Regions from separate parts of the Homo sapiens genome. Here all the other regions are linked to region 1. A link means that fine-mapping ties the variant in region 1 to the expression of a gene that starts in the linked region. Tissue or cell type: cerebellar hemisphere. Region 1 holds a variant in brackets; each other region holds the start of a gene. All regions are shown on one strand. Distances are between the middles of the regions.

Region 1 (8,367 bases):
TGTGGGGTGGGTGGAGAGGGGAGGGATAGCATTAGGAGATATACCTAATGCTGGATGACAGGTTGGTGGGTGCAGCACACCAGCATGGCACATGTGTGCATGTGTGACAGACATGTGCATTGTGGACATGTACCCTAGAACTTGAAGTATAATAATAATAAAATTTAAAAAAAAATTCTTAGATGTAAAGATGCCTCACCTGACTCCACTCAGGTTGGATCAGCATCTTGTTCCCTTTTCTCCCCTGAGACTTTCAAATAGGGCAGAGTAAGATGGAGGAGGTAACTCTTTGTCTCTGCTAATACCTAATCATATAATCTTATTTCAAAAATTGGCCAGTACAGTTGGATTGACTACAAAAAAAAATTAGGCCTTGTCCATTTATCCAGAGGTTTCCTTCAAAACTTTTAAAAAATTTTATCACCTAAAATGGATTTTAAATTATCAGAATTTAGATGTAGCAATTAAGTAAATCTTAAAGGAGGTGTAGAATTCCTTTAAGAAGTTATTGTCTGCTTCCCATTGCAGCAATGTCTGCAATACTACTTTTTTTAATGAGCCCAGAAACAATTCTCTGCAACTGTAAAAATTATGCCAGAATGCAAGTTTTTGGTTAGTGCCATAGTTTCGTTTTGTTATTGAAAATGGGATAAGTCATGATTTATTCCCTCCCTTCTATGGAAGGGTAAAAAATGTTAATGGTAAGAAAGTTATTACATTTTCTATTTCAAGATTGATTTAATAAGAAATTTACCTACCAGATTTATGATGTTTTATTTTTAGCTACAAGAAATAAAAGCTTAAAAATAACAGAAATAAAAGCCTTAGTTTTATATATGTAATTTTTATAATATATACACAAACTTGGAAATAACTTCTGTCAGTATCCCTTATTATTGTCACATGATTTTGAACTTCTGGACCAATATAATTCAGCTGAAAGAACCAAGAAAATTAATATGCACCTGTACTCTCAAATTAGTCTCTTTAGAAGGAAGTGAAGAGAGACTCTTGAAAGATAAATCACAGTGTTACTACATCTTATTGAAAATTTCTATTTATCTCTATAGATGTTCCACATAAAGAAATCTTAAATAATTAAACATAATATAATTGATAAAACTGACATGTTAGTCTGGAGATGTTTGTCACCTATAGACAAAATAGACTCCTAAATATTAATATAAAAGTTATTGTTGTGTTTAGATGAACATAACCATAACCAAATAATTTTATTTGATATTTGGTGGTTCTAGTTACTTAAAATAATAAAAAGCTACATAAGCAAGAACCCTCTTAGAAAGTTGTAAGCATTAGTATAGACTTATATTTATACATGTTTTCTGTACATAAGTTCATTTAATTAATTGATGTAGGTAACTTTATGCTTCACTAAGCATTAATTATACATCATTGTACCTGTAATCCCAGCACTTTGGGGAGGCCGAGGTGGGCAGATCATGAGGTCAGGACTATCAAGAGGCCAGGATTGAGACCATCCTGACCAACATGGTGAAACCCCGTCTCTACTAAAAATACAAAAATTAGCTGGCGTGGTGGCATGAGTCTGTAATCCCAGCTACTTGGGAGGCTGAGGCAGGAGAATCCCTTAAACCAGGGAGTTGGAGGTTGCAGTGAGCCGAGATCATGCCACTGCACTCCAGCCTGGTGACAGAGCAAGACTCTGTCTCAAAAAAAAAAAAAAAATCATTTTGTATGGCCAGTAAAGACAAGTGTAATTGTGTAATTTAATATTTTCTTTTTAATTTTAGCATGGCTTTAAATTTTGAAATTAATGATTCCTGACTTGCATAATATATATTTAGTAGCTATCCTACTTTCACGTTAATATGCTAATCAAATCAAACCAGGAGTATAAGATAAACTATTACATTTGAGTTTAATGTAGCCTACAAGCAACATTTAGCCTATACAACTTATGCATTGACGTGGCTTATTGTTGACCATCATTATTATCTTTCCCTTCACTTATTAGGAACATATGTTTACTAGTTCCTGTTTGGCAGCTAAAATTTTTCATGTGCCCTAAGAACTTGGTATACAGTGCACAATACTTAACAATAGATTAGAATAAACTAGAGTAATATTTTTAGCTTTAGGCTGTGTAAACAGGGTCATATGCCATTTGGATGAGAGTTGAACATACTAAAAAATTTCATTGTTTCATTTAACCCAGAAATACTTTAAAGTATAAATTAGTTCAATTTTTGTAGCATTTCATTTTATGCTATTTAAACATTATGCATTCAGTGGAAAGAATGCTTAATCAGATAATTGGCTTTATAATAAAACACTATACTGATGTATACATATAATGTTTTAGTTGATGGATGGGTTTTTTAATATATTATTTGTTATATATATGTGTGTACTATTTTCCCATCAAATTAAAGCAATCTGCTTATATGGTAGCTAGTTCAATTTTGGTAAGTTTCCACTTTGTATTTGTGCACCAAAATAAATCATAGTTTGCTTTAAGAAAAAAATAGTTTATAAGTACACTTTAAACATGTTTAAATGCAAACCATGAAGTTTCTATGAACCCTTTTGTTACTACTAAAGCCATATGTTTAGCCTTTAGCTATGCCTTTTTTGCCACATTTCTGAATGTAAGATAAACGTGTATTTTGCAGAACTTTATTAAAATGATTACCTGAGAATAAATTTTGTAAATTTTCTTAAGTTAAATTTTCTGTGATTTATGTCCAGCAGTCAGTATTTAGGTTGAAATTAAATGCCATTTCAACACAACAAATTCCCAAATTAAGTTACCTCTATCAAAAGGCCAGTTTTTTTAATAAACATCAGAAGTTTCCTTATAAAAGGGCACATCTATTCACTGGATTGGTTACCTTTAGGAAGGGAAGCTCAAAGAGTGTTTGACTGAGTAATAAGAATATTTCTGACAATGGGACTTGGCATGGATAACTGTTAAACCATTGATCTCCTTCAGTTCTCTATCATTTCTAAGTGTTTGCTCCCTGTGGATCTATACAGTGGGATAGCAGAGAGTCATAGAAGTATTTTTAAGCACTTGAATTTCATAGTGTATGCTTCATGGACAGAATAAAATGTATTCCTCCAGCTGTTCAAGAATGAGGGCAAGGGGGAGATAAAAAGAGAAATGAAGGCAAGACAGACTTAGATCTCAATAAATGTTGCAAACTTAGTGTACTTTTACCTCTAAATCCTTTTCCTTACCTCCCACATTTAATTCCATCAAAAAGTCCTTATATTTTCTCCTTGCTTCTAACCCATCATATCCCAGCCACCAAAGGTTTAGGATTCCACATAATGTCATGAATTGACATACACATACACACAAATCCAAGCTGAGCCTTTGGTGCTGTGAAAGAGAATTTAAACATTTTAAAATGTAAAACTAAACATATTATCTGAGGTATGGCTAGAAATAAAAACAATAAAAAAGTGCAGTGAATAGGAAAAATGTAAAAGATTTCCATATTACAAATGAGCTATAAACACATTTATAATTCATAAACAGCATAAAATGATTGCTTATGTCATATTAATTAAAATAATAAAAGTAAGAAAATATGCTCAATGCAGAGGTACTTTTAAGAAAACAAACAAAAAAAAACAAAAGTTAACAAAATATTTTATCTGCATCAAAATATTCTTTGGAAACCAAAAATAAAAATGTATCATGTATGTTCTTTCAGGTTAATCTGTAAAAGTCAGAAAAATACGTAGTCCCTGTTATTTAACTTTCCGAAAATACAAAGTTCTAAATATCCCTCAAGCATAAAGCAAAAGGCTTTATGTCTTGCTGAACTGAAGGAGTGTGCTCCCTGTATTAGTACAAAGAATTCCAGTTTCCTTCCTATCAAAAAACATTTTGTTTCAGTCACATTGAAACAAATGACGTGACTTCAATACAGTGTAAGTATAGCTGAAGCTGTGTCCAGTAATTTTTCTTCAGAACTCTGAAGACACCTATAGAAACTCCTGAGGGGAAAGAATGGTTTCTCACAAGGCCAAGAGGAATATTATCCAAAGCGAAACTTGAGTCTGTATTTCACTGAGTTGGTATTTTTCCGAGGTGCAGAAAGGGGAATCTTTGGCTTGATAGGGCTAGGTGGCTTTTTCTTTTCAGGAACAGTAACCGTGAAAGAAAGTTCTGGCTGCT[C/GCTC]CGACTGCTTGAATCTTGGCAGAAAATGGGTAGAGATATGCTGGGGTTTAACCCGGGGGCTGCACCCTCGTTTGGCTTTTCCTCTTTTATTCAGGGCCACATACCACTCCCGCCCTGTTTTTTCAGTTCTATGTATTGCTGAGGCATAGGTATTATAGCTATTTTCTTGAAAACGCTCCCTGAACTTGCAGTCATCTGTGAACTTGGCCTAAGGAGGAGAAAAAAAGAGGAAATTTAAGTTGTGGCGATCTTTTCAGCATGTAATAAAACATAAGGTATTGTAGAAAAAAAAACAATAATTTTGTTGATCTCTGTTCCTCCTACTCAATTCCTTTTTATAAAGACATGTTTGCTTATTTTAAAGTTGCTTTAAAATTACTATTTTTCTTTCTATATTTCTACTTCATTTATCTTTGTAACACATTTCTGTTCCCTACTTACTTGGTGACATAATATCGATGACTATAAAAGTAACCAGAACTCTTGATACATTTAAACCCTGTTACTATTGTTTAAATACTTTGAAATGTATAGTTACAAATCTTTTTACATACTGTTTTTCCTCCTAACTCACTAAGAAAATAAATGGAACTATATTACTAAGAAATGATTGCCTGGTAAAATATAAATTCCTGTTCACAGAAATGAGGTCAAAATTATTCCTTTGAAACAAGCTTGCATTTTTTCAATGTTATCAGTGTGATTGAGGCTGCTGAGAGAGAAGTAGCATATGGCCCCCATTAATATTGCACGTGTTAGAGTTCTTTAGAAAAAAATAACGTATCTTTACTCAGGCATTACAGGAAAGTATATCTAACTCCAAGAAGAAAAAAGTCACTCGAGTTACTAACTACACTTTGGCCAGATCTTACACACACACAAAATATCTGCCCTTGAAATGCTTACAGAATAGTGGAAAAGCAGACAAGTAGACATCCGTCATGGTGCAGCTTGATAAATGGAATTATGACAGCGGTATGCAGAGGGTACAATGACAGCATAGAGGAAGGGCATCTAAGAGGGTGGAGGTGGCCAAGAAGAGGGCAGAAAAGTCTTCCTATAAAAGGTGACATTTGAGCTGAGTCTTCAAGTACAACTAGGAATGTTCTCTAACTAGCATTAGAGAGGAAGGCAAAATAAGAAAGGATTTTCAGGGAGAAGGAACAGGGTGTTGAAAGGTCAACATGACACTTTCAAATACCTGTAAGTAGTTCAGCGTGACCTCTACCTAGGATGCATGTGGGAAGTAAGGAGATGAGCCAGACAATGTAGGTCAGCACCAGCTCTGAAAGAGCTTAGTTTGCCATGTAGTAAAATTTGAAGGAATATGTGGGAGAATGGGGGAAGAGTGTGAACTTGGAGTCAGACATGCAATCAAAAACCAGTTCTGCCAATTAAGCTCTTAGCCTTAGCCTCCTTATCCATAACACTTACAACAATAGGGCTGTTATGAGAATCCAAAGGAGGATTCTGTAGCTTTCATCAAACTTGAAAGAGCCCATAACCCCCAAAGAATTAAGAATTCCTGTACTAGTTAAGACTACCAGGTTTCATAATTTCAAGGAGTACTATTTACACAGAATTCCCGTGTTTGAGAATACCAAATATTTTGTCCCCTATATATAAAAACACTAAAAGCTACATACTTCTATATCAAACCAAGAAGTTTTATACGGGAATAAAATGGCCTTTTTTTCCTTGTTTTTTCTAATAATGCCAAACTTTTCTTTGAAATACTGATCATAACACAGAAATCTAAAAATCTGAATATTGCAAGGCAATCTACATAGATCCACTGTTGAAGTCCACATGGAGTTTCTGAGCAGTGCAGGTTACTGACAGTAGTAGAAGCCAACCAATATCAGAGCATTTCCAACAGCACATTCACTTTATGTACAATAGTTTACTGGAGTTACTTATATTTAAGTGTAGTTCAATCAACAAAGTTCCATTGGCAGGTTATGAAGCCATATATGTAGATCTTCCACAAGTCTACTGGTGAATCTCTGGATATGATCTCGAGCAGGCTGAAGGCAAGTATTTTTTGTTTGTTTCTTTGTTGTTGTTGTTGTTGTTGTTTTGTTATTGTTGTTGTTTTTGAGACAGGTTCTTGCTCTGTTGGCCAGGCTGGAGTGCAGTGGCATTATCTTGGCTCACTGCAACCTCCATCTCCCAGGCTCAAGCAATTCTCCTGCTTCAGCCTCCTGAGTAGCTGGGATTACAGGTGTGTGCCACCATGCCCAGCTAATTTTTGTATTTTTAGTAGAGACGGGGTTTCACCATATTGGCCAGGCTTGTCTCGAATTCCTGACCTCAGATAATCTGCCTGCCTCGGCCTCCCAAAGTGCTGGGATTCAGGTGTGAGCCACCGCACCCGGCCGAAGGCAGGTATTATAAACAATCACCACCTATGTATGGCATCCCTTTCACCCTGTCTACGATACACCTTGCCAGCCTGCATTTAGGCCCGGACTGCTATGCTGACATCACTTTCGAAGACCACACATTGACTATTCCTATTTTTTATTAGAAAGACTTGCTTACAAATTCATTGTAGATTTGTCTACAGCTGCTTAGCTCTTAAAATGGTTTTCCCATTTAATTAGATAATCCCAACATTTTATTTCAAAATAAAAGCTATAGACATCTAGAATGTTTCTGGCTCTATAAACAGATCACAAGAATTTTACAAAGGTGTGAAACATTTCATTAAAAAGAGTATCAGGTATATTTATCTTGTCTCGGGTTTTTTTTTTCTTAAAATGCAGTTGAATGACATTTTTGAAAATGTGTAATACATTATGCCTTGATCTGACTTCCAGCTCTGTTTCACAAAAACAGCGGTGATTGCTTTACTCAATTTTGACAGAGTTAGGTTTTTACAATGTACTACATTATTTAATATTTTCCCCCAACAGTGCCCAAGAAAATAAAGAAAGAACATGTCATTTTTAACTAATGTAGATGACAGGCACACACACACTCATGCACAGGTGCATGTGCAGACACACACCACAGCATTTCTTTTTTTAAAACAGGAATCTATATCATTTCCATTTTAGGATCTTTCATATGAGTGAAACCCACCTGCCCCACCCCCTACAATTGTTTCATCTAAAATCTTTCTCTTTTCCTCCTCTTTTCCTCGAGATTCATATTCTAAAGTTCTTTCTTAAGAGGAGCCCTTTATGGAGATGGCTATTTGGACTTCAGATTTTTCAAAGGTCACCTAACTGTTACCCAGGGTAGAAGTGTGTAGAGTTCTAAGGATCTACACAGTACACACAGCCCCTCAGCCATCCAAATCCTACATTCTACATTAATACGGGAGTAAACGCAGTTAGACTGTTTTGGCTTTCTTAATTAACTTTTAATTTAATGTTTTGTCTGAAAAATTATTCCAGCTGTGATGGAACACAGAATCATTTGAAACAAACATTTCAGTGAATTTACTCATCTTGAAGGATTGACTATTCCTGTTAGTATTCCCGGTCTGGCTCAGACAAGATGGTGACCCTAAGCAGTATATCTCTATACATAATGTTGTGCATGGACCATCTTTATAGCAAAGAGTCATAGGTCTTAGCTAGAGGTACTAAAATACATACATTTACCATTAGAAAATTTTGGACAATAAATTTTCCAGGCTGATTTTTATTTTTTAAATCTTTTTTTTAAATTATAAGTCTTCTAATAAAATATACACTTTTAAAATGATAGAACTCCATTATTTTTCTAGAAAAAAAACCCCTGAAATTAACAGACTTTTTCTATAGTTAAAGAGTATGAAGTAGAGAGATGAATCAAATTTCAGATAAGTTGCTGAAATCAAGACTCCTTCATCTAATTGCCTTACCACCATCAGCCACTACAATGAAAGCAATTGTTTAAATATTTGTTTAAAAAGTTTCATATTCATTTTTCACTAATTTATTCCACAGATATCACATGCCAGGCACTGTGCTAGGTGCCACTTTTACAGTGGAAAACAGTATTAACATGGTCCTGCCCATGTTTTTGTTGACTTAAATTACATTAAAATCTCTTTAATTTCTCCTTGATCTGGCAAGAATAATAACAGGTTACATTCAACAAACCATAATTGCAAAATTAAAATGAAATGTTTAAAATCAGCGTTTTTTGTACTTTAGTATATACTCCTAATTGACAAAAAAAAAAGAACTTTAAACAAATCG
Region 2 (8,367 bases), 740 kb before region 1:
TACTTCAGAAACATTTCAATATTATAATTACTTATCTTAAAAGTACTTTGGTCATAGGAGGAAAGAATCTCCTCTTCCTCATTGCAGGAAAATATTCACTTGTGGGGCTGGATTGCCTCAGTTATTTTTTTAAATCTATGAAGTATGTGAGATTTTTTAAAAGGTGATAAGTACTCACTAAAATGTGCTATTTTGGTGGGTGCATGTCATGAATAGTGAAAGTTTCCTAACAACATGTGTGCTTTAATTGTTTTTCCTAAAGAGATTATATTTGTCATTAAGAAAAGGAAGATTAAGTGACTATGGGAGTCATGAGAAAGTGATGATCCTAAAGTATCTTAAAAGATCAAGACAGAAGAAAAATTCATGTAAAATATTCTTCTTTATCATATAGTAGCCAGAGACAACTTAAACCAAAATCAAAATAAATGCTAATTTCATATCCTTCTGTCTTCCTTCACATGGTGTATTTTTATGAAGCTGACCTTCTCTGTCACTAATAGATTTTGTGAATTACCTTTTGCAAAGGGAAAGATAAAACCTATCTTTATGTAAACCCTTCCACATGACAAAAAAACTTACAAGCACTCCAAACTTACGGTTTTGGCACACCAACTACATAGCATTCAGGGAGGAGAAAAGGGTTTAGCAGAAAGTGTATTTAGGATGAATGCCACCCACCATCAAGTAATGGTTTAAGTAGAAAGTAATCAGAGGGAGACCACAGCAGCTAAATTTCAATCGAAGATATTCTAGGTTTAGAACAATAAATAATTTTAATCAGGTATGTACCAAGGCACAAACAGGACTCTAAAGCTATAACTCAGCCTGAATAAGCACTCAGAGGCTGCCGGATCAGCAGCTGCCCCATACACAGCACACCACCTGATCTTCCATTAAAATTTCTAACGTCTTCAGTACAGAGAAACCCATATGTTCTAAAACTTAAAAACTCTGGACTGGAAAACATATCTACTATATTAATTTAGACAGCATCTTTCACCTACAAGGGAACATATGTCACAAGGTGAAAGGGTGTTATGGAAATGCTGATATGGATGACGAGAGAGGGACACACATGAAAACCTTAGCACCTTCCTAGAGTCCTGCCTTATTAGAGCCAGAACTGCCTTATAATAGTCTTTTTAGTGTGTTAGTAACTAAACACTCTTGGAAGGGGCCCAACACGAACCACCTCACCAGGAGCCTCAATGAGGTAACATGACACTTAAGCTTCCACAAAAACCAGTGTCTACATTTGATGAATAAGTCATTAAGACAGTCTCTAGGATGCTAAAGGGATTACTTTTCTTATCAGGGCACACAGCCTTGTATATATGCATCAAGCTGCAACTCATCGTTTCAAGGGAATGTCTGGCCTCCATATCAGAGTTTATTATTTGATGCTATGAGACTACAGTGAGGCTGATAAGGCACACTCTGGAATACTGCAAGGAATGAGTTGAAGCCAAAAAGAATATGGTGCCTGAGTTGTTAAAATCTTTATCCATGGTTAACTTGGCCTAAAACAAATAAAAGCTATACAATACGTGAATGAAACAAATTCAAATTCTACCTCCAAACCATGTGGTTCATTCTATAAATGAAACTTGTTAATCCCAAACATATTGTTTTTTATCTTAGGGGCCTCAGCTACTCCCTAGCAATATAACCAAGAAAACAAATATCAAGATAAGAGTCATTTGAGTACCTTCATTTTTGCCACCTGCCTAGCTCACCCAACTTCCTTTCAATCCTTGCAACTCCCACATGAGTTACTCACTGAGTTATGCCCCTAGAGTTGCACTAAAGTAAACAGAGTATTCACTGGTGTAGTCAGCTGTCAGGACAGCCTCCTCCAATGGCTAGGATACTGTGGATAACACAGAGCAGGTTTCTTTTTCCTTACTGGTGGCGCTCTCCTCACAGATCATGCTCATGGTTTTAAGAAGAAAGTAAAATCTGGTTCAGTTCAGTCTCTAGCTAAAGACTTCTGTATTAGGAAGCATAATTCACATCTATTGTAAATGTCATCATGCCTGTAAGCTCTAGAATATATTTACACAGACAATGCAGGGCTTTCCTTGATGAATGCCTTAGTTTTCCCTTTTTCCAGGAGTCTTGCATATCAAAACTTTGGGAGATTTCTTTCTAGTGATTCTGACAGTATTGACTGAGGCATGGCCTCATTTTCTTGAAGATTCTTGGCTATTGTTCAACTGTTCACTGAAGACAGGCTTTGCAGTTACATTTCCCCTTATCATGAATGTAGTGAACAAAAAAGCCTGGTGAATCCTCAAAGCATAAAAACAGAGTTAGTGTCCAGGAAGCTTTCCCTCAAGCTGTTAACACAAGGGAGGGAGGCTGTTAGCATAAGTTATTCCCTTCACCACAGGGGCTAGGAGAAACCTTGTTAAGCCATGAATTTCAGTCCGAAGTGATCTGTGCTGAAAAATGGGATGAGCAGATTTTCTTGGGCAGATTCCAAGAGGTGTTTACATCCAGGGTTGCTCCCTCCCCTTGTCTCCCAGCTCCTCCCAGGATGGATGGTACAACCCCTGTTTACCCAGATGCGTTTTAATAATCGAAACACCCAAGCACCTGTTTTTTTTTTTTTTTTTTTTTTTTTTGCCACTAAGGAACTATCAAGTAAAGTGTCAAATATAGTACAGTAACACAAAGGGCGCGAATTAGGAGCGGGTGCAATATCTGGAGAAGCGACTGGGGAAGGAGAAAAGGAGAGGGGAAGGCGTCTTATTCAAGTATGATTTCTCTCGGGTCCTGGCATTGGCATAAAATGGCATCTGCCTCTTAGTAAACATGGCTAAAGCCCAGTCCAAAGGAATTTCCGCTGGCCGATTTAGGAATCAACAGAATAAGGTACCCTAGAGGTGCTCCAGTCACTCAGGGCAGGAGGCCTCACAGGCATGGGGTGTCGCCCCTTCCCTTTTTCCACGAAGCTCCTCCAGCCTACCCCTCCACTGCTCCGCGCCTTCATTCTATTTCCCCCTCTCACTTTGGATTTGAAAACTGGGCTTACAGGAGATGCAGCTGGCGACACGCGGGGTGTGACTGGACGGAGGAATCCAGAGGGCAGCTGAGGAGGGCGGAGAAAGGTCCCTAGGCAGCGCCACCAAGCAAGGGGCAGACAAGGAAGCTGTGGGGGGTCCCGGGAGAAAGCTGGGGCGGGACCGCGGGAAGGGAGTCTCACCTCGCGCACTCACCTGCTGCTGCCGCCCGAAAGCTGCGAACCGTGTTGCCTTCGCGCAGGAGCCGAGGGCGCCAGGGCTGCGAGCCTCCCTCCAGGGAGCCCGGTGTCCGGGCCGCCTGGACCGTGCTGTACCTGTCATAGAGCCGCAGCATGTGTTCAGAGACCTTGTCTTGCGGCTGCAGCTCGGAGTCCGGGCCACCACCTGCCGTGCGGTCACCTGGCACAGCTTTGCGGAGCTCCGGGAAAGGTGGCTTCGGTCTCTCTCCCTGCGCCAGGCTCACGCAGAAGCAGCCCAGCCACAGAAAGAGCAGCCTGCTCGCCCCAGCCATGGCTAGGTACCCGCGCGGCGCGTCGGCTCCCGGCGTCGCTGCGGGACACTCCGAAGGCGCAAGGAGCCGGCGGCGGAGCCGAGGGTTGAACTCCAAACCAGCTGGGGCGAGGGCGCACGGAGCCCGGGACGCGGCCGGGTGCAGCGAGATAGCGGCCAGCCCCACTTGCTGCGCTGACCCAGCGCAGCCTGACAGGTGGGCTCTTCCCCAGCAGCTGCGCGGACCTCACCCGCGCAGGGCGCTGCGGGCGCCGTCTCCACTCCAACGCTGAGAAAGAGCTGTAGGTCGCGGCGTGTGTGGCCCGGGTGTTTTCAAGATCTGTCTGTACCTTCCCTCCTCGCTTTATTTTTGGGAACACCCGGCCAAACTGGCCGCGCGAGGGACTAGGACTAGCTCTGTTTTGGGCGCCAGGTCGGAGCCGGGGCTGTGCGCAGCGGTCCGGAGGGCGCTCGATTGCCTTTTCCAGGGATTGGAGCAGCTGCGGCGCGGCTGGTCCGAGTTTTTTAGTGTACGTGTGTGTGTGTGTGCGCGCGCGCGCGCGCGTGTGTGCGTGTGTGTGTGTGTATGAGAGAGAGAGACTTAGTTCTTTCGCTCTCTAGCTGATCTGTAGAGTCCTCAGCCAATCTCTCCCACTCCCTCGTCCTCGCCCTCTTAGCTTGCACCAGGCTGGGATAGAAGCAAGGGAGGGGGGGAGTAACCAGAGAACTGGCAGCGGGAGGGAGAGAAGAGGAAGTAGGGGTGGGGATGGCTGGGGAGAGGAAGGGAAAAGGAGATTCAGGACTAAAGAAATGGTAGGAGGGACGGTTTTTTTGTTTTGTTTTGTTTTGTTTTTGTTTGTTTTTTTTTTTAATTCTCCAAGAACAGTGGCTGTGTGGTGGCTAGCAAGAGGGCAGAGGAAAACAGAACTTCTTCCTGGCTTTTCGGTCTTATGATTCCAAACAAAGTCACAACGTGAACACCATTCTCGCTTACTTTCCCGAGCCTCTTCTGACGGACACTGCGGGCCCCTGCACCTGCAGCCCGTCATCATAGCTTCCTGTCTTTCTGAGAGCATACCCATCATAACGCCCCTCTCTCCCGCATCATCTTCTCTCGAGGTGAGAAATATGTGCGAGTCAATATCATGTTAAAAACAAATAAGAAAACAAGCAAACACACCACAACCCCACCTACAGCTTCCCCCAAAGGTTTCCTTCCTACAGGTCCCCAAAAGGTTTCCCAGCAGGATGGTGCAGTGGTGGCTAAAAACAAGGGTGTGTGGAAGATCCCGGAGTCCGGAACAGAATGTAAGAGTCGCTAGCTTTGTCTTCCTAATTCTCTCTTGTCATGGCTGTACAATGGAGATTAAACTATGAGCAGCCTGGCGCAGTGGCTCAGGCCTGTAATCCCAGCACTTTGGAAGGCCAAAGCGGGTGGATCACGAAGTCAGGAGTTCGAGACCAGCCTTGCCAACATGGTGAAACCTCATCTCTACTAAAAATACAAAAATTAGCTGGGCGTGGTGGTGCGCACATGTAATCCCAGCTACTGGGAAGGCTGCGGCAAGAGAATGGCTTGAATCCAGGAGATGGAGGTTGCAGTGAGCCGAGATTGTGCCACTGCACTCCAGACTGGGTGACAGAGCAAACTTTGTCTCAAAACAAAAAACAAACAAACAAACAAAAAACAACTGTGAGCTAACATTTTTCTCCACACTTATGCTCTAGACATGCCTTGTTATTTATATTTCAAGTATATTACCAAATAATTTTCACAGCAAAACCCATTTTACAGATGAGGAAACTGAGGCAAAAGGATACATAGTAAGTGACAGAACTGAGATCCAAATTCAGGGAGTCTGATTTCTGGCCTCAGGCCAGATAACCACACTATTAATAGTGAAATTAGCATTTAAACTGAAGTTTCAGTGTGCAATCCATGTAAATGTTTAGTGCAGTTCTTGACCATATGCAGTAAAATCTTCAGTCAATGTCTATTGCATTTATCCCTCTTCCCCTCTGTAGGGCAATGGAGTTGATCGAAAAGAAGATAGGCTCCTGGAGTCACACCATGTCTCCAGATCTGAGTTTCTTCTTTGATGGTGAATAACAACACATTCCTTTTAGAGTTTTGTTTGGATGACATTAGAAAGCAGTGCTAAAGTGACTGGCGCACTCACTAGCCTTTAATAGGGGCTCAATCCCTTTCTATCCTAAATTTATCCCAAATCCAGACTACATTCTCCCCACTCAGTCACTTCTTAACCCACTGCGGTTTGGATTTTGCCCTTAGCCACCCCGGGAACTGTTCTGCAGATAATAACACATATTTCAAGAGTAGTTGTGAGGATTAAATGAGATCATGTGTTTGATCTTTGCTTGGCATAAAGAACATAATAGCTTTTGTGATTAATAATGAAGATCTAATTGCAAAATTCAATAGGCCCTGGAAACTCTCTCTTTGATTTTTTCCCTGTGAACTATTGGTTGTTTTTCCATTCCTTTCTGCCCTTTCTCAGTTCTGTCAGCTGCCTCCTCTTTCTAGGCCTGCCTCAAGCGTTCCTGACATCTTTACTCTGCCCTTGGAAAATGCCAAATCCAGAAGAAAATTCTTTTTCAGTTCTTCTGCTTTGGTGGTCACCTCTGGCCTTTAAATATATAGTTCTGGGTCCCCCTCAGCTCCAGTCCTCCTTGCCAAAGAAGTTCATCCTCTTCCCCTTTGAAACCATCTTTGAGACTTCCCTCCCTTTAGCTACAGTGCATATTTCTGTCACAACATTTGCCACTCTGTACTCCACATGATTCTTCATTCATAGATACTGAAGACTGACAGCATGTCTACAATGGCTCCCTTCCCTTTGCTGCACCTCCAATCTGTTATTTAAGCCATAAGCATAAAATAAGAGTGCCATCTCACAGGGTTGTAGTAAAGAATAATTGGATAGTCCATTTCAAGAGATTAGCAGAGTGCCTAGCACATAGCAAATGCTTAAAAAGAGTCGGCTGAGACCTAAGAGAATCGCTTGTCTGTTTTTGTCTAAGGCAGAGATCAAGGCATACCCATCTTTATATTTTAATGACCAGCCATGTCATTCAGAATAATCATAGTAACAGGGGATGATGAGCAAGTAGAATAATCCCTAACAGAGATTCCCAGCTGTAATTCCAGACTAGAACAGAATATGGATATGGGAGCCAGCAAACCAGAGAACACTAGTAGCAACCAAATTTTGGACTTATAATAACTCATTTGCAACTAACATACATCCAGGAAGAGGGAGCAATGGATGAAATGGATGAAGCCAGCAGCAGCATGTCCAGCAATGACAAATAAATGGCACCCCTCCCAGACTCTTGGAATGACTTCTTGGGAAATTGAATTGAAAGCAAATTAAATGGGAAAAAAACAATTCCCTCATCAGCACACCTGGAGATGCCATCTTGTGATATTCAAGACAGTAGCACAGTGTTTCTTTTATCAAAGGCTGCAGAATCCCAGCTCTGGATGGATTAAATTGTTTCAGAATGCTGGCATCTTGAGATGCCTTCACTCAAATGGTTTAAATCATAGGATTCATATTTCTGGCTGAGCATCTGGTTTCCTTGATGTATGGAGGATTTGCAGCTTTTCAGGAGGAACTGAATTGAACATATTGGTAGTATACGTGCCTTGTATTTGATCTCTCTGTTGTGTTGCATTAATTAAGAGTTGTTTTAATTTTTAAATAATAGGTCTTTCCTATTTTATGTTAGAGGTTGTGACTGTTATAGCCAACTACTGAATCAGAGGATACTTATCAATCTTTTTTCCCAAACACAAGGAGAGTTAAAGGAAAGCATTTCTAAAACAGAAAACAACAGCAGATTAGTGGATTAGTGGATTCTGTTGCATTAAACTCTACTTTTGACTATAAAAACCCTATGTGTGTATGTATGAATGTATGTGTATTATGCTTGTCTTTATTGATATTCTTGAGTAATATACATTTATTTTCTAAAAACTTCCCATCAACCATTATTATTGAATACTTATGTAAGACTATATTAGCAGTTGTGAAGTTTTGGTTCCTTCCTCTTTTTTATTACTCCCATCCTTGATTCATTCACTCAATACATATTTAGTATCTATTGTGTTCTTGACAATTTCATGTTGAGAATACAAAGATAAAATGAAATGCTTCCTGTCCCCTGAAAACTTAGTCTACTTGGGAGATAGGAATAACCACTTGAAAAACTTAAAGGTATTTTTTTTTCCCCTGGCTGAGTAAGGCAGAGAGTGCTGCATGGGAGAGATGGTAGTTGAACTGAGATTTAAAAGCAAAGTAGGTGGTTTTCCGGGGGTATTTTAGATAGGCTATTTCAGACAGAGAAAGAATATCATCTACACTTAGGTGGGAGAAGTCTTTCTTCTGGGGTCCTCTTCCAAATTCATACCAATCTTTCTCTCCATTATTTCTTTAGTTAACTCACTTGAGTTATATGCTTGTATTTAGTTACCAATAACTCCACAAGTATTTCTAACCTTAAGTCTCTACAGTATTTCAGCTCCCCCCGCCCCAGTTTTTATAAACTGTGTTTATCCTGTTGATATCATAAATTCAGTGCATCTAAAATGAAACTGGTCATCCATCTTAATTATATTCTTGGTTTCCAAACCTTTATGTTGGCACTCTTATCCTTTTAGCCATCCACGTTCCAAGTCTTAGACTTCTATTCACCTTCTCCTTCTCTCTGAGCAACATAAATTAATTGCTAAATCATATAGAGGCTATCTCTGTTATTTCTTTCATTTATTCTCTTTATTTCTATTGCAACTCCTTTCATTTAGTTATTAATTTATTTTAATCTA
Region 3 (8,367 bases), 49 kb before region 1:
ACATGGGATCGTGAAGCATCCTTGGGTTAGCAACAGTGGGAAGCCATTAACACCATTTGGCATAAAAGAAGATAAGGGAGGAAGCAATTCCTAGAGCAGGGAGTGCTGCCAGACCCTGGAGAGAGTGCTATAGCTAATGGAATGAGAAGATGGCCAAACCTAAGGAAGGTAGCTGCTTCTAAACCACAGACAGTAGGAAGATGGCAGGGAATAAATTATCTAACCACTTCCTTCCAGCCCCCTGCACTCCAGTTGGTACCTCCTATTGGCTGAAACCAACCCAAAGCCAAAAGCTCCTGATTAATGACTGTGAAGGTCATTGTCCAGGGGCACAGAATGGATCTGGCACAGATTATATGATTATTTGTATGTCAATCATTGGTACTAACTTTTTATGCAGATTAACTGAAAACTTTTGGGAGCAGAATATACTACACAATACAAGAGTACCTGGAAGATAGTAAATGTTTGTAAAATGCTTGCTGAATAAATAAAACTTAGACCGGACTGTAAGCATTATATACTTAGGTTTCTGAGGTCAAGTCTAGAATAGATTCTTACTTAAACTCTTAGCAGTGTAGGCAATATCCACTACATCAGGCGCTTGGTGAAGGATTATCGACTAAAAAGGTGGCTGGATAAATACATGGGTGTACAGATAATCAGATGAAAGTATAGATAACTCATAACATTTTATATACTTTAGGAAACTTGAATAATCTAGTCCAACTGTTTCATTTTGTAGGTAAAAAATGGAATTTCAAGTTGATTAAAAACACAATATTGCAGAGTTAGAACCAAAAAAAAATCTTGTGACTCTAGCCTCTTCTAACTAAACATGCTACCTCTAATTTACAGTTTACAATTTGTTTCATTCAAATAAATTCAAGAGATCTCTTGTATAACATTGTGACTACAGTTAATAACAATATATTATGTTCTTTTAAAATGTCAAGAAAATAGATTTTTAAGTGTTCTCACCACAAAAAAATGATAATTATGTGAGGTAATACATATGTTAACTTGATTTAGCCATTCCACAATATATATAATTTAAAACATCATGTTGTATATGATAAATATCGACAATTTTGTTAGTTAAAATAAAATGTTTTAAAAGTTGTTCCATTCAAATCAAAGTCAGTTACTGATGATGATGATGTGTGTGAGAGAGAGAGAGAGGAAAAGCACAAGTATCAGCTCACTTAGCATGATCCATGATTTGTGAAACATGCTTGCCATACTACTGAAAGAATGCTGAGGAGTCTACTTGTTTCTGTGTGACCTAAGTGCACAATGAACTTACATCCACAGAAAGTATTTGAGAATGTAGATCTCTAGAAATAATAGCACTTTAAAAGTTGTCACTAATCAATCCAAATATATACATATATATGTAAACATATATATACCTGTCTAATTATCATTATTCAACTAAATCTTCATCTTACTTTTTATGAAAGTACAACAAAAATAAGCTTAATCAATGCCAAATATAAAAGTAAATTTCTTTGTCATTTCCCCAAATATAATTACCACCTTCCATTTTGGAAACCTTTAATGAATTCTGATTGATGGGCTGGGTGTGGTGGCTCACACCTGTAATTCCAGCACTTTGGGAGGCTGAGGCCGGTGGATCACTTGAGGTCAGGAGTTCGAGACCAGCCTGGCCAACATGGTGAAACCCTGTCTCTGCTAAAAATACAAAAATTAGCTGGGTATGGTGGTGCAGACCTGTAATCCCAGAAACTTGGGAGGCTGAGGCAAGAGAATCACTTGAACCTGGGGAGCGGAGGTTGCAGTGAGCCGAGATGGGGCCACTGCACTCTGGCCTGGGCCACAGAGTGAAACTCTATCTCAAAAAAAAAAAAAAAAATTCTGATTGATGAAACACAAATTATTAATTTCACATCTGTAATTAATATTAATGTTTTAGGTCCATACTCACATGAAGAACTGTGCCTTAAAAAATATTAAAACCTTTCTTAATAATACTAGGTTTAAATTTGCCAATCTTCCACATATGCTACAAAGATGATTTTAGTCTATCAAGATGTTTATAGCGTATATTTCATTTTTTGTTTATTTAAACATTCAAAAATTTAGATGTAAACATTGTTTAGCAGCATTACTTTTTCAGTGTCTTGGATGCAAGGCATAAACTGACTTTTATGACTTTAAATATATTATCTGTATAATGTTTTAAAATTTTGCTTTTGAAGCCAGGAGCTATATTGGAAATACCACCTACATTTATTTTTTAAATGTACTGAAGAATAACACTTTTGAAACCTGTAATCCATATTTAAGTGAAATGCCTCTGTAACCAATCTTTGAAGTCCAAAAGTGTCAATCCACTAAAATGCAGTTACCTTGTTGCAGTTCAGAAGTGTGGGGAGCTGGTGGCAGGATGCAAATCCTTCCCAGACTGATGTGGCTTTTCACCACATAGTGGCGCCTGTTCTCTCTGGCCTAAATAGGGATAAGGCATTTCTGGGTCCTGTGGAGAGCACGGCCGACTCTCCAGGTGAGTGTCCATTCAGTGGGCCTATCCGGGAAGTTTGGCTAGGAATATACTGGGACTTTAGGAGCCATCGTCCGCCTCCCAGCTTCCTAGCACTGATGACTTGTTAATTCCTGCGCGTCCGGGTTCTCCCGTGGCACAGGACAAGAACTCCACTCTGTCCCCCACCACCCTGCAGCGGGGGTAGCTGGGGAGGGGATTGGCTGTTGGGCAGAGGAAAGCAACCCATTAGGTCCAGTTTCGCTCCTTTTTTGTGTGTATATTTTTACTATCAAAGTTAGTTGTGATCATCAACTCGATAAACTTGAATCAGGAATATGTCTGCACAACTACCTGTAATGCGTCTCTGTAATTAAAGTACTTTCAGAATCAATTAGTGTGAGGTGGAAGTTCATGAACCCAAACGCCCAATATAACACCAAATACACTAGGTTGGTGTAAAGATGCCATCTTCTGTTCTTTAATATACCAATTGGCAAAGCAGAGAGAAACAGGTGTCTGTCCTAGATCACAGCCGGAGACTTCTCAGCAGACCTCCTTCCTCACAGAGAGCGGCTTTGGAATGGGAGTGGGCTGGGAGGAGGCAGGGGAGGCCAAGAAGCACAAATTCATGGCTCCCCAGTGTGAGTGTGCCCGCGCGTTTCTGCGCTGGGTGACTCTAGGGGCCCAAGTTCTGTCCGGACCGGGGAGCGCGGGGCGGTAAGGACGCGGCAATTCACCTCGCCAGCGGCTTTAGTGTCGCGGTCCCGAAACCGCGGCGCCTGACAGCTGAGCTGTCCAGCGCCAGGGGGCGACCAGCCCACGAAGCGGGAACTCGAGGAGGGACCGAGGGACGCGCGGCGGCGGCTACTCTGCCGCGCTCCGCCCTTACCTCCAGGTAGTACAAGTCCACAGTAGTGATCTGCGAGTCCAGGAAATCTTCATAGGCGTTGAATTGAGTGACAATATTGTCCAAGGCCTTCAGCCCCTCTTCCTGATCCATTGCGGTATCCTCGGCCGAAGCGTCCCTAGCAACGGAAGCAGGAGGGCAGGGTCAGGAGGCTCCACCCACTTCGTTCCTGCCAATCAGTTGAAGCCGGTGTGAGCTTTGGACGTTAATCCCACCCCCCGGCGGTTTGTTGCAGTTTCTGTCTTCTGCCTCACTCCTGTGAAAACTTTCTGGAATTACCCACCCAAGTTCAGGTCGGATACCCATCCACCGACTCAGGCTTCAGTGAACTGTTGAGCAACCAGAGAGGTGCAAACTGCAATCCAAAGTTAAAAAGTATGACACTGCCTACATACTTAGACAAAATATTAGGAATTAGCTCCCAATTGCATTCTAAAACAATGTTATGCAAGACAAAAATACCGAGACATTTTGCAAAAAGACTGTCTCAAAAACAAGTATATCAAATGGTGTTGTGACAACGACAATAATAAAATAATGATTTTGTTAAATTATTTTTAAAGTTATAACAAAGGTAAATTATTGCTAATGTTTGTGTACAAGAAGCAATTTATGAAATTCCCAAAGGAAAGAAACTCAGTCAAAAAAATGTCTTTGCAGACCTTTTTTGGCACCAAGTTCTTGCACTTATTTTACTATTTTAGCACAGTGAAAAATTTTGCTGTGTTGAAGCTGCCCTTTTTAAAGAATAAAATATCTGTGAAATCTTATTAAATAAAGTCTTTCACTAAAGATTTTTTGTTTTCTTCAGAACAGTATTGTGTTTTTAAAATATGAATTTAAAGTAATCCAACACAACAGCTGGCAAAATATGTTCAGAACCAATCTTTGGATTTTAATATTTTACAAACCATCCTTGGGAATTAGCATATAATACAATGCTAAGCCTTTAATTGTTGCTCTGTAAGTACGTTTCTAATTCATCTTGAAGATTTTCACAGATTTGCTAACAAAATTTTAATGAAAACATCTGGTAAGATACTTCATTTCAGTTAGCTTTCCTAATTTAAAAAGTTCATCTTAAAAATTAGGATGTCATGACTTGCAAATTTTAAGTGATATAGACACAATATTTAGGATGCTACTAACTTGTTTTTTTGTTTGTTTAATGAATGTATTCTGACATGTTTTTAAAGATATTTTGGGCCTTATTTTTGAATGCAATTTAATTATTGAATTTGGGAAAACAAAAAGGAGATAAAACCTTGGACACTGGTAACCCATCAAAAGTAATAATAGGCCAGGTACAGTGACTCCCAGCACTTTGGGAGGCCGAGGTGGGTGGATCACGAGGTCAGGAGTTCAAGACCAGACTGGCCAACATGGTGAAATTCCGTCTCTACTAAAATTACAAAAATTAGCTAGGCATGATGGTGGGCGCCTGTAATCCCAGCTACTCAGGAAGCTGAGGCAGAAGAATCCTCCTATATCAAGATTTCATCACTTTTAAGAAACAGTAAAGCATCTAGAGAATGTTTGGGTTTATTAAACTAGAGCACTTTAATGAAAAGGACCTATATGTTAGTAAAATGTGAGGTCATGGTTTGGCTATATATTGTTCTATTATATCAATTGTGATTGTGCATTTTTTAGAGAAACCTCATTAAATTTGCCATTTGGTCAACATCTCTTTGATGAAGTAATCTCTACAGCATCTAAATTTAAACAATCATGAAATTATTTTCAGTCAATGAGTCTAGAAATGTCTTCTAACTCAAAACACTGAGGCTGATTTTCAGCAAATCAGCTTCTCTATTAATATCAAGAAAATTCATAAACTTATCCTTGTTCCTCACAGTAAGGCTAGAATTAATAGTGCGTATAACTCAATTGTCCTTTTCTAAACTTTCAATTTAACTTCAGAACCACTTTCAGACCTGTGCCTGAGAAATGAAAGGGTGGCAACAAAGAAATTAGTAAGTTTCGGCAAGCTTCTCTTTTCATTGCAAGGCTTTTGTTATGATCAAGAAATACTTTATTTTGGATAACATGCATTCCTACTTCAAGTCCAAGATTTTTAAAGACTGAAACCTGGAATTTAGCACCGATCCCAGAAATTCCATTCTTTGCAAAAGGACAAAGAAGGATTAGTATATTCATAATAAAACCCCAAGATGTAGGAAAGAGGAAACATATGTTATGTAAGAATAACAAAATATATGCCAGATTTAAGGTACTTACTTGGTGGAAGTATATTAAAAAGTTTCAAATTAAGCTCTACACTTTTATATTCCAAAATATTTGGCAATATACTATGATAGCTGACACAGTGAAAGGAAAACATACTTTGGTTTGTTGACATGACAGGAAGGGAATGTTTTGCTTATGTTAATAAGAACTTGAGGATCTATTAAGACGTTCTATTAATATGTTATCATATTGTAGGAAAAAAACATATACTTACTCTAATAGGACAAGAGATTTGTGTCTGGTGTTGCCTAGCTGCTTGTTAACTATGACTGCAGATGAGGGCTATTGCTTAATCATCAGCCAAGGAGAGCTTTTTTGCACTTAGAAACAATGGTGATACTAAATTTACTTGAGCTATTTCTCGTGATGAGATCGCTGGACTTCCTCACAGTCTCAGTTATTCTAGGATGCTGGAGTTCTGGTTCCACTGCTTCTCTGTCCTGGAGACACAATGTGTTCATGTGTCATAATCCGGGAGTTTGCTCCTGCCTTGTCATTGACAGTGTGAAAGGAAAATTTCAGAAGAGAGAAATACAAGTATAAGATGGAATTCCTCCCAGGACTGGGGTTGACAGATGTCTGCAGCTAATAAAGATTGAAAACTACTACTGTGCTATGGGATAGATGATGGGTATGATCACCACAACCACCACTTTGGAACAGAGAAAAACTTGGGCTCTCTGTGGCTCTATAAGGCATTACCAAAAACCTCACTGAAAATTCCCTCAAGCTTTTTGGCTACATGGAAATCAGCCTCTACCCTAAAACTCCACTCCCCCTGAGTGGGCAAACAATCAGAACATAGCACCTGTGAATAGACGGCCACCACAATAAATGTGGAGCTGCCAGTTGCAAGCAGGTGCCCAGCATTGCCCTACAATCTATGTTATCTTTTTCTTCAGTTCACTCTTACCTTCTACTATGGCTTTTTCCACTTTCTCCTCTCTCCTTAATCTTATATCATCCTTTCTCAAAGCAGATAAACTTAACTCTTATACCCAAAAGAAGTAAGTTATCACAATAGATTTCCCACAGTCAAATGCTGTATACAAGCTTATTCACATTCATATCAACGTTTTACTTCTTCCATTGTGTAAAGGAAGAGATTTACCTCCTTCCATACCTTCACTACACAGGTTCAATCTCCTTCTGTCTTCCCAGGGTTTCTCATTTTAATTATTCCCTCTCTTCTTTGTTGTTAATTTATCTCTTCTCTCCCTCCCCACCCCAGCTCCTTTCCCATTTTAAAAATAAGCAAATGATCCCAAAAATCACCCTCACCTCCACAGACAATGTTAGCTATAGGCTTTCCTGCCCTTTACAGCAAAACTTTTGGAAAGAGCTGTCTACAATCACTGTCTCCATTTCCTTACCTTCCACTTTCTGCCCAACATATTCCAGTCTGTTTTTACGCACTGCTCCACGATTTTCACCAAAGTCAATTATGACATCTTTGCCATTAGGCCCAATAGACATTTTTTCTGTCCTCAGACTGCTTGACATTTAGCAGCATTTGACCCTGTGACCACTCTCTTCTCTTCGAGATTCTCTTTTAGCTTCTGTCACATTACTTTGCACTGAGGTTGGTTAGTTGGTTGTTTGGTTGGTTCGTTGGTTTTCCATTAGCTGTTTCTTCTCAGTTCTCTTTGCTAGCCCCTTTTCTCCTTACCTAGCTTTTAAAAGATTGGAGAGTCTCAGGGTTCTCTCCTAGACCCTTTGCTGACTCTACACTTTTGTTACTTGGAGCTCTCACCCACACTTATTGCTTTACTTACTGCCTTACATGCATATGGTTCCTCTATCTATATAATTAACTAGGTCACTCTTCCAATCACATATCTAACTGCCTAGCAGATGCCACTGGATGTATAACATGTATAAATGAAAATTTTCCTCTTTTTGTGCCTCCTAATTTGTTCCTCCTCCAGTGTTCCCTCTTTCAACACACAGGTTCCTCTCCTCTCAGTTGTTCATGTGAGAAACATGGAAGACAGTCTTGAACCTTACTTCTCCGTCACCCCTGAAATGTAAGGCCTGTTATTTCCACCTCTCAATTACTTCTCTTGAAGGCTTAAATTTCTCTCCAACCTAATTGACATGGGTTCCTTGCCTAAGCCAAAGTCTGGTACCTAAACTCCAAGAATATAATCTTTTCTGGTTTCCCTATACTCTTCTGGCCTCTTTCCATTCCACTCTTCAAAATGTAGTTAGTGTTTGCTTAAAAACACGGATCTCACCAGGCCTCTTTTAAAAACCTTCTTTGGCTCCCCATTACCCTTAGGATAAAGTACAGTTTTGTTTTGTCTTTTTGACATGGCTTACAAGACATTCCACATCCTGACCTTCATCTGATACCCTCTACTGCACACGTTACATGTTCCAGCCACACCAGACTTTTTTCAGTTTTGAAAGGAGCCTCCACTTCTTTTGCTGCTGGGTCTCAAACATGCTGTTCCCTCTGCCTAGGACATTCTTTCACAGTACACACTTTTTCCATTTACCTATTAGCTCCCTATTATAGATCTCGGTATAGAGATCAAGATATAGTAGTCTCCTGTGTTCCCAGAGCACTTTCTAATGCACTTATCATTTGTTGCAATATCTTGATTATTATAAAGTATTTGACAAATGTCTATACTGCTTATTAGAATCTATGAACATAAAGGCAAAGACTATGTCAACCCTCTTCACCACTATATCCTCA

Alleles and levels. Positions count from the first base shown, and alleles are read on the strand shown. Sizes are in standard deviations (SD) of each study's normalised expression.
With allele C in place of GCTC in region 1, the expression in cerebellar hemisphere of the gene that starts at base 4,117 in region 2 is lower (large effect, 1.6 SD a copy in GTEx).
For the expression in cerebellar hemisphere of the gene that starts at base 3,545 in region 3, GCTC is the high allele of the variant in region 1 and C is the other (large effect, 1.4 SD a copy in GTEx).

Evidence for each region. PIP is the estimated chance that this variant, and not a neighbour inherited with it, causes the effect.
Region 2: it holds the start of BMP3, and the variant in region 1 is fine-mapped to the expression of BMP3 in cerebellar hemisphere (GTEx, PIP above 0.99). The same link has a PIP of 0.9 or more in cerebellum.
Region 3: CFAP299 starts here. The variant in region 1 is fine-mapped to the expression of CFAP299 in cerebellar hemisphere (GTEx, PIP above 0.99). The same link has a PIP of 0.9 or more in cerebellum and fibroblasts.

Annotation. Positions count from the first base shown.
Region 1 is chr4:80,282,337-80,290,703 of GRCh38, reverse strand. FGF5 (fibroblast growth factor 5) reads right to left here. Exons shown (of 3, transcript NM_004464.4): 3 at 1-4,379. The coding sequence ends at 4,032. Among named protein-coding and RNA genes, the nearest start is that of FGF5, 20 kb to the right of the region's middle. The variant C/GCTC (reference allele first, on the strand shown) is at 4,172.
Region 2 is chr4:81,026,458-81,034,824 of GRCh38, reverse strand. BMP3 (bone morphogenetic protein 3) reads right to left here and starts at 4,117. Exons shown (of 3, transcript NM_001201.5): 1 at 3,225-4,117. The coding sequence starts at 3,540.
Region 3 is chr4:80,330,908-80,339,274 of GRCh38, reverse strand. CFAP299 (cilia and flagella associated protein 299) reads right to left here and starts at 3,545. Exons shown (of 6, transcript NM_152770.3): 1 at 3,396-3,545. The coding sequence starts at 3,506. RefSeq lists an enhancer at 3,404-3,553.